Linked DNA regions of Homo sapiens. The protein of the gene in region 2 interacts with the protein of the main gene of each other region in a pairwise test. Each region holds a gene or a part of one and is shown on either strand. Other genes may lie near its edges.

Region 1 (5,560 bases), on a different chromosome or scaffold from region 2:
AAGGGTTTTTTGTGTCTCTATTTCCTTCAGTTCTGCTCTGATCTTAGGCCTTTTTTAAGAGATTTTCACCAACCTCTCTCAACACCTCCCCTTTCTCCTACACTTCTATACTCAAATCTCCCACAGGGACTCCCTGCATGAAGAAAAATATGAACGTTTAATTTTCCAGCCACAAGCCAGTATTATTCTCTATGCAGGGTGTGCTAGACCTTCAGGAGCTGAGGGAGGGGAGACCCACTGAGCAGCCTTCTGTGGAGCAGAGTGAAAGACAAGTTAGATGCAGGTGCTGTTCAGAAGCTTTATTTCTCTGTATAATCAGACACAAGTGATAACATTGTCAGGAGGAAAGGAGGCTTCCACGATCTTGGAAAACACATGGGTGGAGCCTTTTGGAAAAAGCACAATTCTTCCCCATGAATGAATGGTTAATTAGCATGTCTAAGAAAGGATCTAACAAGTTGGGGCTTTTCCTTTTTCCTTGAGATACTTGTTTCCTCTAAAGTCGCTTGTCTCAGCATCAGGAATTAGGTCAGCAGCAGCCTCCAGAGCCATAGCCACAGTCGGAGGCACCATCTTGCTGACCACTGCCTCTGTCACAGGAGTTGGAGCTCTGGCGCCGGCATCGGTGGGACCTGCAGCACCTGTGGTGGCTCAGGCAGCAGCCGCCCTCAGAGCTGGGGCCACCACAGCACCCAGGTCTTGGAGCACAGCAGGAGGAGGCTGGAGGCAGACACTGTGCTGAGCTCTTTGGGGGGCACTTGGGTGAGGGGCACTTGGGCAGAGGCTGGCACTGCTGCTGGTTCTGCTGGCAGGACATCTTGGCAGGAGGTGACAGCCTGGATAGATAAAAGGAAAAGGTCAACGCAAAAGCTCCAGGCTAATGTCTCCTCTACAAATGGTTTTATGAAGCCCTTACTCCTAATACCAGTTGCTTCCTGAGATATGCACTTCAGGAATAAAAACAGAAACTGATCTCAAGTAAAACTGGCCTGGTAAGACATTTCCTTCCATTTTTCCCTCTTCCAGAAAAGAATGCTGGTGTCTTCTAACTGGGTCCCAAGTCCTCCTGTCTTCACAAAAACACTGATGCAAAAGCACCTAATTGAGTAATGATTCTCAGAGAATATCACTGGGCATGTATGCATCTCCCAGGAAAAGAGTGGAGAGAATGCTGAGAGCCAGGGCTCTGGTGAGTCACAGACTCCCATGCACCCCAAAGAGGTTCCTTGCTCACTGCCCCTTCCCCTACCCTCAGCTGCCCTCTGAAGTCCTCTTCCTGCTGTCTGTACATCTGACACCTCTGCTTCCCCCTTCCCTAGTAAAATCTGGGCTTATCTTCCCCAGACACCCCCAGCTGAGGGTCCCCTGCTAGATACTTGCCAGATACAGAAGATGCTGAAGAGGAGAAGGCTGTTCTCTAGGAGGCTGTGGATGAGGAGCCCAAGATAAGAGGCTTTTTATCTTGTGCAGGGTTAGAGATGCACAGACCAGGCATGCTGCTTTCACAACAAGGGGAGGTGGCAGAGCCAAACACTCCCATCCCAGGCCTCCAGCATCTTGCTTCATGCTTGCCAAGATGCCTGGCAAGAGGGAACCAGGAAGTCTTGATGACAGATCTCCACGTGTGTTGGGGACCTGTCATTTCTTCTCCTTTCACTCATTCAGTTTGGATGCTTTAGTTTGAGCTCTGCCTCTTGCACTTTGAGGGAGAATGTAAAGATGCATATGACACATTTCCTGACCTTGAGCCTTTCAAAGTTAACTGGACTAACATCAGAGATGTAAACTTATGTGTCTGATATGATATCATGTGATTCGTCCTGGGTATCCCAGGATGTCTTTTTTTGGACATCACTTCCCTATTCCTCTGCATATTCCCCAGGGGCATGGTTTGTTGAGATGTAATTGGCTCCTGACTCTTGGGGATGTTGGGTGATCTGAGACTATTGGACCCTGGGAGTGAGATGTATTAGGTAATGAATGGAGAATGGGACACAAGCCCTGTCTGGGGCTGTTGGGGCCCTTAAGAGAATTAAGGTAGGATTATATGAATAAGCAGACAAAATCATTAAGGAATATACAATAGTTGAGATCACAAGACTCATACTTAATATGAAAAAGGTCAATTTGCCCATATTTAGCTTCCCATGGGATATATGATACTGATTATAAGCAAATAAAATGGTCCATGAGCATAAAATATGTAAGATAGTTGGTGTGAGTCATGAACATGATTCGTTCAATGTATTGTTGATGATGAGGTTAGTGATGGTAGTAACATCATGTGCATCAAATTTAATGGAACAAACCTTATAAATTCTAAGGTTTCTGTAGGATGACATATAAAGTCTGATTTGTATTTTTCCCATTTGATTGTATAATAGTTTTAGACATGAATTTTTCACTGAATTCATCTCTATTATTATAATACCTGAACTTTGCTATTTGTTTCTAAAAAGTTAAAGTCAGAACTATAACAGAACATTAAATTTAAGTTAAATGGTAATTTTAAATAACACATGTTTATGGTAAATGCCTGTTATTGCTCCCTGTACTTGATAGTTTATGGCTTTTAGACAACAAACTCCTTATCAGAGTATGCACTTTACAACTTACCCTCTTTAAAACATGGTGGGAGGTGGGGGGCAGAATTCCATGATTTATTTTGAGATATTTAAGAGAAAGTGAATTGTCTCTAGGAATGTGGCTTGGGAATGGAGGAAGAGGAAAAGGATCAGACCTGTCATTGACTCCCCTCTCTGATATTCTTCTGCCTGCAGAAGCCTCTTGCTGAAGGGATATTTTTGGGCTTAGCCCCGGGACTACACTAGGTGTCCATTTCTTTTGCATTCTTTAGAACACACAAATTGCTAGTGCATTGGAAGGAATTACTCATGATGGTTGAAATGGGTACTTTCTCATTCCATACTGGTGAAGTTGAAGAGGGACACAATCTGTTGAAAAATTCAGTTAAAAAATTACTGGGGTTTAGACTTTGCTGCAAATCTGAACGTTTATTTCTCTGTATCTTGTATTTATCATAAGCAAGTCTTGTCCTCCCAACAGAGCAAGCATGATAGCCATTTTCCTGCATGGGTTGCAACCCTGAGTCATTGGCAGCTGAGGGAGGTAGGAGATGGAAGCGTTAATTGAGAAAGAAACATAAATCACACATTTTGGGCAAGTTTCAAAGGAAAAAAAATCCTTGCCTATGACATTCAATATATCGTGTTACCGCTGTTTTATAAAACACAATAGATGACTGTTAGGCTTTCCTCCAGCCCCATTCTTGACTGCCTGTCTTGAAAGCCTCCCCACAAGACCTGGAGAGCTCATTAATCTCCCTTCTACCTTAGTGATTGCTCCTGTCACCACTCTCCTCTTCCTGAAATCAGGTGTCCACAGTTCTCACACGCACAGGATTTGTCCCGTGATGACAAACAGTAGCTATAAGATCATGATCTTGTCACTTCCCCTACAGCACAAGGGCACCTCCCTGAGAATCACTAGTCCTGAGAGTCCCATCCTGAGGAGCCTTGGCTTCCTGTGGCCCAAAGACATCAAGGAAATACAGAGACTGCTCTGGCTGGATGAATCCAGGAAAAATTTCATGACTTAGTCATTCCAATTGGTACTATAGGAACAGGCACTGCAGGACCTCAGATTTAGCCCCTTGGAGTGCATTTTGGACATTCCACATCAGCAATCAAGGATGAGTCAACAAACAGAATTCTTCTCCCTTTGCTTAAAACTCACAGTTCCTTCTCCATTCTGTTCCTGCCATGTCTGCGACAATCAAATTCCATGGCAAGCAGCTAAGTTATTCTTAAGGAAAATGGGAAGCAGTGGCCAGAAAGTGCCATATACCTCCAACGTGCCTAAGTTTCTTATATGGATTTGAATTTTTCCCTCAGATTAAATAGTATTTTGAGATATTTACACCGCTCTATTCTCCTGAGAAAGCTCTGGTAGGACCCAGTGTGTAAGAAGATGTTGGACTCAAATTTTCTTCTTGTATTACGATGTTGGCTGAAGTCAAAAGATGAAAATAGTAGATGCCTCTTATCCCCATATACTAAAGTAAACTTAGGATAAGCTGCTGAAAATCTCTGCAAGACTTGCTAAGAAAAAAAAATAGAACTCTATTTCTCTGGTTCAGCTATATATTTGGAAGGTTGAACTTTGGTGAGAATTTTTTAGATAGGAAAGTTATTATCCTAAAAGACAATGATGTAGTCTCCCCCTAATCTTGTACATGGGAGGGAAACTGGTTGTTCTCCTACAACAGAGGTCAATTGAAAGGGCAGGATTCACAATGACAGCCTGTAGATGTTAGAGATTCCTTCAAGAAAGAAAGACAGCATTTTTATCCCCCAGCAGAATGTCTGCTGTAGTAGTAGACTTGATGTTCTAACCTCTGAGCCTATTGTTGAATAAAGAAAAGGAACTGAAGAGATAGAACAGGACATTGAGACATAACAGCAGATGACATCTAAGAAGGAAGACCAGCTTCCACAGTCTTGCTAGTGTTGTGCTTAGGATGGTTTTCTGTTGGGCAGACAGACCTCATTATCGAGAAGCCATGGCTGGTGCCAACGAAGGTAGGAGCTTAGGGAGTACGTGAAGGGTTAAATCCGACTGCTCATCCCATGTCTGGAAATCATGCTGTTAGGAAAATGCTTGAAGATACTCCAGGACTCACAAAAGCACCCTATAAGACAGCCCTCCTGCAGAACCTGCCACACAGAAGAAGCAGAGACAGCCCTGCCGCAGAACCTGCCAACAGAGGAGGCTAGTGGTACAGTCACATGTGTAATGATTCTCCCTCCCCTTTTCCATCTCCCAATACAATGGAGGAGGAAGGGCTACTGAGGAAGAAGGTGGAGGGGTGGTAGTGAATGAGAGAAAGAGCCCATCATATTCCCCTTCCAACTCCAGTCTCCTGGGAGATACCTGGACAATGCTTGTGTGCAAGGGAGAATTTGAGTTTCAAATTTTGTTCAGAATTAAATTTAGCTGGTCTGGACTTTAGTATCCATAGAAGTGACTGACGAAATGTGGAATTTCCCTGAGGTATTTTCAAGAGAGATTCAACAGAGCATAGGAAAAAACAATGACCGAAAAAGACAATGCTTCATGTTTTTATTGTACTGACTTTAGACTGTTCAATACACAACTTAGTAGGCTCTTAGGTTTTTATAAGAAAGGGGCAGTTTTGGATTCTCCCACCCTTTCTAGCATCAATCAAATCAATAAATGCCCAGATTTCAGGTCCCCAAGGACAAACGAGAAGCAAGTTCAGGAATGTTGGTGGAAGCTTCATAATGACCACACACAGGTACTGTAAAGGCAACTGGAAGTAGAAACTGGGTAGTTACTGGAGACATGATGGAGTTTGGAAGGTCAGGGAGGAAGTCTTTCATGAACAGGAGTATCTTAGAAGATCAAGAGGGAGGACAGGGAGTTGGGTGTTGGATGGTGAGAATATTCATGTGCTACTTACCTGTAGTCCATGGGGAAAAAGGAAAACTCTCTGGGAGGCAATAGAAGACCCTGACCA
Region 2 (7,742 bases):
CTAGTCTCGAACTTCTGACCTCAGGTGATCCACCCACCTCGGCCTCCCAAAGTGCTGGGATTACAGGTGTGAGCCACCATGCCCAGCCAACACTTCTAATATAAAAAGAACTGCTGGAAATTAAAAGCTTAGTGGCAAAAAGGAAAAATTCAGCAATAAGAATTGAAAGATAAAGCTGAGAAAAATCTCAAGAAATAAAGGAAAAAATAAAGAGGATAAGGATTATATCTCAGGTGGGGGGGGGGGAATTGTATCTCCCACTAACTATATGCATGTATATGCGCACGTGTGTGTGTGTGTGTGTGTGTGTGTGTCTCAAACCTTATGGACCAGGCTTTTTTTTTTTTCTTAAGACAGGGTATGGCTCTGTCGCCCAGCCTGGAATGCTATGGCACAAACACAGTTCACTGCAGACTCAACCCCCTGGGCTCAAACAATCCTCCCAGCTTGGCCTCTCAGAGTGCTGGGATTACAGGAGTGAGTCACAGTGCCCAGAGCCACTTTACCCATTTTTTTTGAGACAGACTCTCTCTTTGTTGCCCAGGCTGGAGTATAGTGGTGTGATCACTGCTCACTGCAGCTTCAACCTCCTGAACTCAAGCGATCCTCCCACCTCAGCTTTCTGAGTAGCTGGGACTACAGGCATGTGCCACCATGCTCAGCTAATTTTTGTATTTTTTGTAGAGAAAGAGTTTTGCCATGTTGTCCACACTGGAACTCCTGGGCTCAAGCTCTCAAGCTATCCACCCACCTCAGCCTCCCAAAGTGGTTGGATGACAGGCATGAGCCACTGTGCCCAGCCACTTTACCTACCTACCACATCCTGCCACAGTCCTAAGTTTAACTAATTAAAGAGATATGCTGTGAAATGTAAGAAAATAAGAGCAAATAAGTTAGTAGAAAGCAACTAGGGTAAAAGGAAGGCAGGAATACTACTATGGGAGATAAGCTAATCACAAGTTTGTTTTTGATGAGCAATGGAAAACTGTTTGATCAGGGTTGAAAGGACAAAATTGGCAAGAACTGAATCCCAGATAATAAAAATAGAAGTAAAGCTTGTTAAAGAAAAAAAAATCATTTTGTCACTCCTAATGAAATTATTCACACAAGGATTGGTGTTAAAAGCATTAAGTGAATAGCTGACAGAGAAAGGGCATTTGTACTGTACCAAAATGAACACATAGATCACTGTCTAGTAGCAAAAAAAAAAAACCCGAAAAAACAAAAACAAACATTAACTTCCTAACAGAGAGAGATCAGGCCACTCAGATTCGGTGGTCAATCTTAGAATTAGGAATAGTTTGACAACTAGTTTATGTTATCTCCTCGTGTGATGCTAGCTGGAGGACTGTCAGGGTACATAAATAACAGTCTTCCTCAAATACAAGGCAAATATCAACGTCAAAACAACAGATTATTCAGTAGTGTTTCTTTTTAATCCAACAGTAAAAAAGTTTTTCCAATCTACTGGAAAAGAAAAAATTGTTAAATTCAAGGCACTTAAAAGAGAGCTAACTTTAAATCTTGTTCTGGAACTTGAGAGAGTTCCAGTGGTATAAATGTCAGCACTCCCCGTGCCTTCCCAGGGACTACCATGGCTTGGCTCTGGGGACAGGGGCACCCAAGCAATTAGCTTGAAGGCCAAGGCCTTCAAGATAACACAAAGGCAAATCCCTCAGGAAGAACACCCTACTACTGCACTAATTATATTAGACAGCAAAGCGGGGTAAAAAAAAAAAAACAACTCACAATGGAGATATTTCCTTCTTAATTTCTGCCAAAGCCTCACGACATAGGCTTGAAGGTGATTCCTGGTCCTAGAATGAGAATTGAAAACCAATTTCGGTACAACCAATCTGGATGCACAACCAACTCAACACCGTGAGGTGGCAAAGGGGTAAGAGGCCAAGGAGTTCCTGGGCTCTGCTACCCTCCCCCACCCTAATGTTACCGAGAAACTAAGTTGAAAAAAAAGAACTATAGGAACCGCAACGACGAGACAAAGCTAAAAGTGCTTCGTCCAACTGCAGTACTGGGGATGCAGTGGGCTCGGGGATCCGAGGCCTGCTCCCAGGACGGGAGAGGGAAGGGTAAACGTCGTCTCGACGCCAGCAAGGGATTTGTATTCCCTCCTAAATTTGCCCACCCAGCGTCATCTCTGTCACTCCAAGCACCATTTCAGAGGTAACGGGCGGCGCGCATCACCTCTGGGCCCACAGTTGCCTCAAGAAGTTGCCCTGGGGCCCCAGCAGTCGACGACAGGGCCCCAGATCCGCCATTAAACTCGCCCAGATCAGCAGCAAAGAGTAAAAGCCGCGCAGCGCCTGGGAAAAGATGAGCGAAGGAGGGGACCCAGCGGGGCAGAGGCAGAAGCCCTCGCCCGAAAAACCTGGGGACCTCGGCTCCGGCGGCAGGGTGGCAGCGCGGTCCTGACAGCGAAGACCCGGCCGGGGCGCCCCTCCCTCGCCCAACCCGCCCCCCGCCACTATGCGGCAGGAGAGAAAGAAAAATGCCCCGCGACCTCCCCGGGCGGCCGGCAACCCGCCCCGCCACCCCGCCTCCCCGCCGGCCCCGCGACCTCCGCCGCTGGCGACCGCCTCACCCAACCCTCCCGGCCTCGCTCGCACTCTCCCAGCCCCTCAGGCCGGACGCAAAAGCGCCGGTGACAGGAGGGCAGCCCCGAGCTGCCCTCGAGGCCCCGAAGCGGCAACGGCGACGGCGGCCGCGCCGCGGGGTATTAATCCCGGGTCGGTGGGAGCCTCCGGAGGCTGCTCTCACCCATCTCCGCCTCCCCACTCACCTCGGCCTCCGCCTCCTCCTCCGGAGGCTGCGCTGCTCCCAGCCACCCCCACTCTCAGCGGCCCTGGACTGGAAAGACAGCGGGGATAAGCGTCACCCGGTTCTGGCTGCGGCTGCGCGGAACGAACAAGCCCACCCCGCTTCGGCGACAAGCACAACTCCGCGAGGTCCAGTCCCGGCTTTTCGCGCTGGTGAGGAGGCGGAGAAGCAGGGGACGGCGCAGCAGAGCCCGAGGAGGCCCCACCCTCCGTGCGCTCGTTGGCTGGCGAGGGAGACGAGCCTGGGCGCCTTGGGCACGCCCATTGGCTCCGACGGCCGTCCTTCAGGGCGCCCCCTCGGTGGGGTGGCCGAAGAGCTGTCCGTCAGGTGCGGGCCACACCCGCGGCCCTGCAGTTCCACTCCCGCCTGCCAGCCCTCAACTCCCGGTCGGGTTGTCTCCCCGCCGGTCTCCCGCCCCCAGCTACCGGGTCCGCCAGGGTCAGGAGCCCGAGATTCGCCGCCCGTCGTAGCGGCCCGCTTCGGCCCCTCGGGGCCCGGGGCTCTCCGGGACCTACACAGCCCGGGAGACTCCGGCGGGGCTGCCTGCCCTCGCCCGAGCCCGGGGGCCCAAGCTGCGGCAGCGGCTCCCAACGCCTCTGCTCGAGGAGAGCGGCGGCCTGGATGCCCCAGCGCCCTCCCTGTCCAGTTCCTTGAAGGCCCCCAAGAGGGGCGAGGCCGGGGAGGTGCTGGAGCGGGGCCAAGTGAGCTTTCGGGGCCGCGGTTGAACTGGAGTCTTGAGTGCGCTGCGGTCAGTGGAGGCCCTTCCACCCTCGCCGCGCCCCGTGGGGAATAGTCCCCCACCTCCCGCCATGGCTGCAGCAGGAGGAGACGACGTCCTCCATTTTGTCGGGACAACTGTGGGAACTTGGGACCCCTCAAAACCAAACCCCGTGGGGCCAGGACTTGTCCCGGAAGCCCCGACTGGGCTCTGCCATTCGGACAAGGGAACAGCCCCAGCTGCCGGCGTCTGCGTCCGCGGGGCAGTACTGGTCGGGCGCGACGGTGGAGACACCCAGACGCAGCTCCCCGCCTCCATCAACCAAGATGGAGGGAGCTGCAGGCTCCCTTGGAGCTGGGCTCTCGCGGGTTGGAGGGGCTGAGGCCTGCCCTGGGGCGTCCCTGGGCGCCGCCGTCCTGTGCTAGCAGCCCGGGGCGCTGGCCCTGCCTAGGCCTTTTTACTGCCTGCCACCGTCTCCTGGTCCGGAATGGTTGATGGAGACTCCATGGAGGCTCCCTCCACAGCCCGCTCTATCGCGGGGCGCACCCGCTGCGGCCCCTGCGGGGAGCAGAATCAGGGACAGATGGCGCCCGGTGAGGGCGGGCCCCACAGGCCACCTCCACGAGGGGTCTTCTCTTTTGTTCCTCGTCTACACCTACGTCTTCGGCGGATGTCATGGTGCTGAACCATTTCCCGGACTCCACGTAAAGATGGAAGCGATTCCGCTTTCGTCTCGCCCTGGCGGTTCTTAGTGGGATTACAATTGAGGATGTTAGTTTGGATGAAAGTTGGTGAAATACTTACCTTATGTCTGGAAATACAGATAATGTGATTTTTAAAAAACACATTGAGCCCCGTTTTACTTCTGTGGTATGGTAAAGGCACAGGTTTATTCAATGAAAATCAGACGTTAACCATCTAATGCAGGGGTGGCCAATCTTTTGGCTTCCCGGGGCCACATTGGAAGAATTGGCTTGGGCCACACATAAAATACGCTAACAGTAACAATAGCTGATGAGCTAAAACAAACGAAAAAACCAAAACGCCAAAAAAATCTCATAACGTTTTAAGAAAATTTACAAATATGTGTTGGGCTGCATTCAAAGCCGTCCTGGGCCGCATGCAACCCCCAAGGGCTGCAGGTTGGACAAGCTTGATCTAAGACAAAAGCATGTTCACGGATTGATGAGAGTTCTGTGTAAGCCTTTGCATATTGCATAGTGCTGTATGTCATGGATATGCCTAATATCACCTACATTTTTTAGGTCCTCAGTTACTCTTTGGAAATAAGTGAATTACATGTAATGTCATCATTTTAATGACTGCTGTAAATTACAAGCACTGACTACCCTGAGTTCGTGGAGAAGGGCTCCATAGAGAAAATTTGAAGGTCTGACAGAAACTTTAAATGGTAAGCTCAGTAGCCACTTGTCATCTATTTTCTGATTATCTTTTTCACAATTTTTTGGCATTGATACTGTTCAAAGATTAAAATTGGGTAACATTTCTTTTTCCTGATAGTGGCAGGAATGACAGGTTCATGTCCCAATGAAAACGCTCACCTCAGTATGCTGCCATGATTTCGAGGGTTGTCGAAAATTTAGGAAAAAAAAGTCTTCATTGTTCAACAAGATAGTGTCATTTATTGTAAATCTTTTGATAATTCAGGACTCCCGGCTAATACAAAGTCACAGCATTATGACCAAGTCTACACAAAGGGGCCAGATAGCCTGCCTTTGAATCGTACTTTATTACTAGTAGCTGTGTGATCATCTTAACAGATAAGTTACTTAAACTCAGCCTCACTTTTATCATTTAAAAAATGTAACAAATACTTAAGATTTTTTTTTTTTGAGAATTAAATGAATTGGCCGGGCACAATGGCCCACGCCTGTAATCCCAGCTATTTGGGAGGCTGAGGCAGGAGAATCACTTGAACCCAGGAGGTGGAGGTTGCAGTGAGCCGAGACTGCATCACTGCACTCCAGTCTGGGCAACACAGCAAGACTGTATCTCAAAAAAAGAAAAACAAAAAACAAGCAAAAAAAGAATTAAATAAATTATCACACATATGACACTTAGAATTGCACCTGGCACATTAATTAATAAAAGCTTGTAAATTTTGCCTGTCATTGTTAATTCCCAATCAGCACAGTGGTACACTAAAAAAAAAATTCTGGCCCGGTGCGGTGGCTCACACTTGTAATCCCAGCACTTTGGAAGGCCGAGACGGGCAGATCACCTGAGGTCAGGAGTTTGAGACCAGCTTGACCAACATGGCGAAACCCCGTCCCTACTAAAAGTACAAAAGTAGCCGGGCGTGGTGGCGCATGCCTGTAATTCCAGATACTCGGGAGGCTGAGGCAGGAGAATCACTTGTACCTGGGAGGTGGGGTTGCGGTGAGCCGAGATTGCACCATTGCACCCCAGACTGGGCAACAAGGGCGAAACTCCGTCTCAAAAACTAACTAAATAAATAGGAAAAAATTCTTCCAGCCTAGGTAACATAGTGGGACCCAGTCTCTACAAAAAATTTTAAAAATTAGCCAGAAGTGGTGCATGCCTGTAGTCCCAGCTACTCAGGAGGCCGAGGTGGGAGGATCACTTGAGCCCAGGAGGTCAAAGCTGCAGTGAGCCATGATTGTGCCACTGCACTCCAGCATCTGGGTGCAGAGTGAGACCCTGTCTCAAAAACAAAAAAAAAAGTTGTTTATAATAATTTAATGACTTATTAAAGTAACATCAGCACTTTCTTACTATTGTAATATGAAAATATTTAATTCTTGGAGTTAATATGTAAAATAAACCGTAGAGGAAATGTAATTGGAACCAAAATTTATTTATTCTTTGAAAGTGGCTTAGTACAGCCAGGCGCGGTGGCTCACGCCTGTAATCCCAGCACTTTGGGAAGCTGAGGCGGGTGGATCACCTGAGGTCGGGAGTTCGAGACCAGCCTGACCAACATGGAGAAACCCCGTCTCTGCTAAAAATACAAAAATTAGCCAGGCGTGGTGGCACATGCCTGTAATCCCAGCTACTTGGGAGGCTGAGGCAGAATTGCTTGAACTTGGGAGGCGGAGGTTGCCGTGAGCAGAGATCGCGCCATCGCACTCCAGCCTGGGCGACAAGAGCGAAACTCCATCTCAAAAAAAAAAAAAAAAGTGTTGTCTTACAATATTCTTAAATTGTCATCCCAAGTAATTCATAGGGATATTAGAAACATAGATCAAAAACAACTGGGGTGGGGAAGAGAGAAAAGAGACTGAGGGAATTAATGCTTATCTTGGACAAACCAGTGAAAAGCTATTTTAAGCAATAAATAATGAAAATTTATTAGAAGAGAAGGAACAGAATCTAAGATTGAAAAAGCATGAGATGACTGGTTGCTATATTTTTAAAAAGATCTCTAGAATCAGTAGGATGCTTTTTTTTTTCTTTGAGATGGAGTCTTGCTCTGTTGCCCAGGCTGGAGTGCAGTGGCGCAGTCTTGGATCACTGCAACCTCCGCCTCCCGGGTTCGAATGATTCTCCTGCCTCAGACTCTAGAGTAGCTGGCATTACAGGCATGCGCCACCACGTCCAGCTAATTTTTGTATTTTTAGTAGAGATGTGGTTTCACCATGTTGGCCAGGCTGGTCTCGAACTCCTGACCTCAAGTGATCTGCCCACCTCAGCCTCCCAGAGTACTGGGATTACAGGCGTAAGCCACTGCACCCAGCCTGAAACCAGTTTTATCTAAGACTGCTGAGATGGCTTGCTGCAACTTTAGGATTAATTTTGGCCACTGCCGTTGCTCACCATTTGGAGCTTGCCAGCTCCCCAGAACCTTACTAGTGCCAGAGAGCTTTCTCAACAAGCAATAGGTAACATTTCTCTTTTTCATAAAACCCCCAACCTTCTCTTTGTTCCTCAGACATGAAGAAAACCACCTGATCTGTGTATATGCCCCCAGCTGCAATTCTTTCTCTCCAAATAAAATGTTAGAGTTTCATCTCTACATTTTTATTTTTATATCAACAGTTGTTTTACAAATACCTTTCAAAGGGATCAATTATTTTACTATGATGAGCACAGTCAGAGATTAAAGCTTATGTAGTAGCTTTTGCTTTTAATCTATCCTAGGTATTCTATTGATAGTCATAGTGTTTCAACTTCGGTCATTTCAACTTTGCTTCTGAGCCCTTTT

What was found.
Region 1: the proteins of ZMYM5 (region 2) and LCE3B interact in binary tests that used the Homo sapiens proteins (3 or more experiments, as listed by UniProt).

What each region holds. Positions count from the first base shown.
Region 1 is NC_000001.11:152,609,068-152,614,627, reverse strand, and holds LCE3B (late cornified envelope protein 3B), read right to left. Parts: upstream 818-5,560; coding exon 530-817; downstream 1-529. UniProt on the Homo sapiens protein: A structural component of the cornified envelope of the stratum corneum involved in innate cutaneous host defense.
Region 2 is NC_000013.11:19,860,650-19,868,391, forward strand, and holds the start of ZMYM5 (zinc finger MYM-type protein 5), read right to left. Parts: upstream 3,001-7,742; 5' UTR 2,801-3,000; intron 2,721-2,800; exon of another isoform or gene 2,178-2,720; coding exon of another isoform or gene 2,175-2,177; intron 1,818-2,174; coding exon of another isoform or gene 1,750-1,817; intron 1-1,749. UniProt on the Homo sapiens protein: Functions as a transcriptional regulator.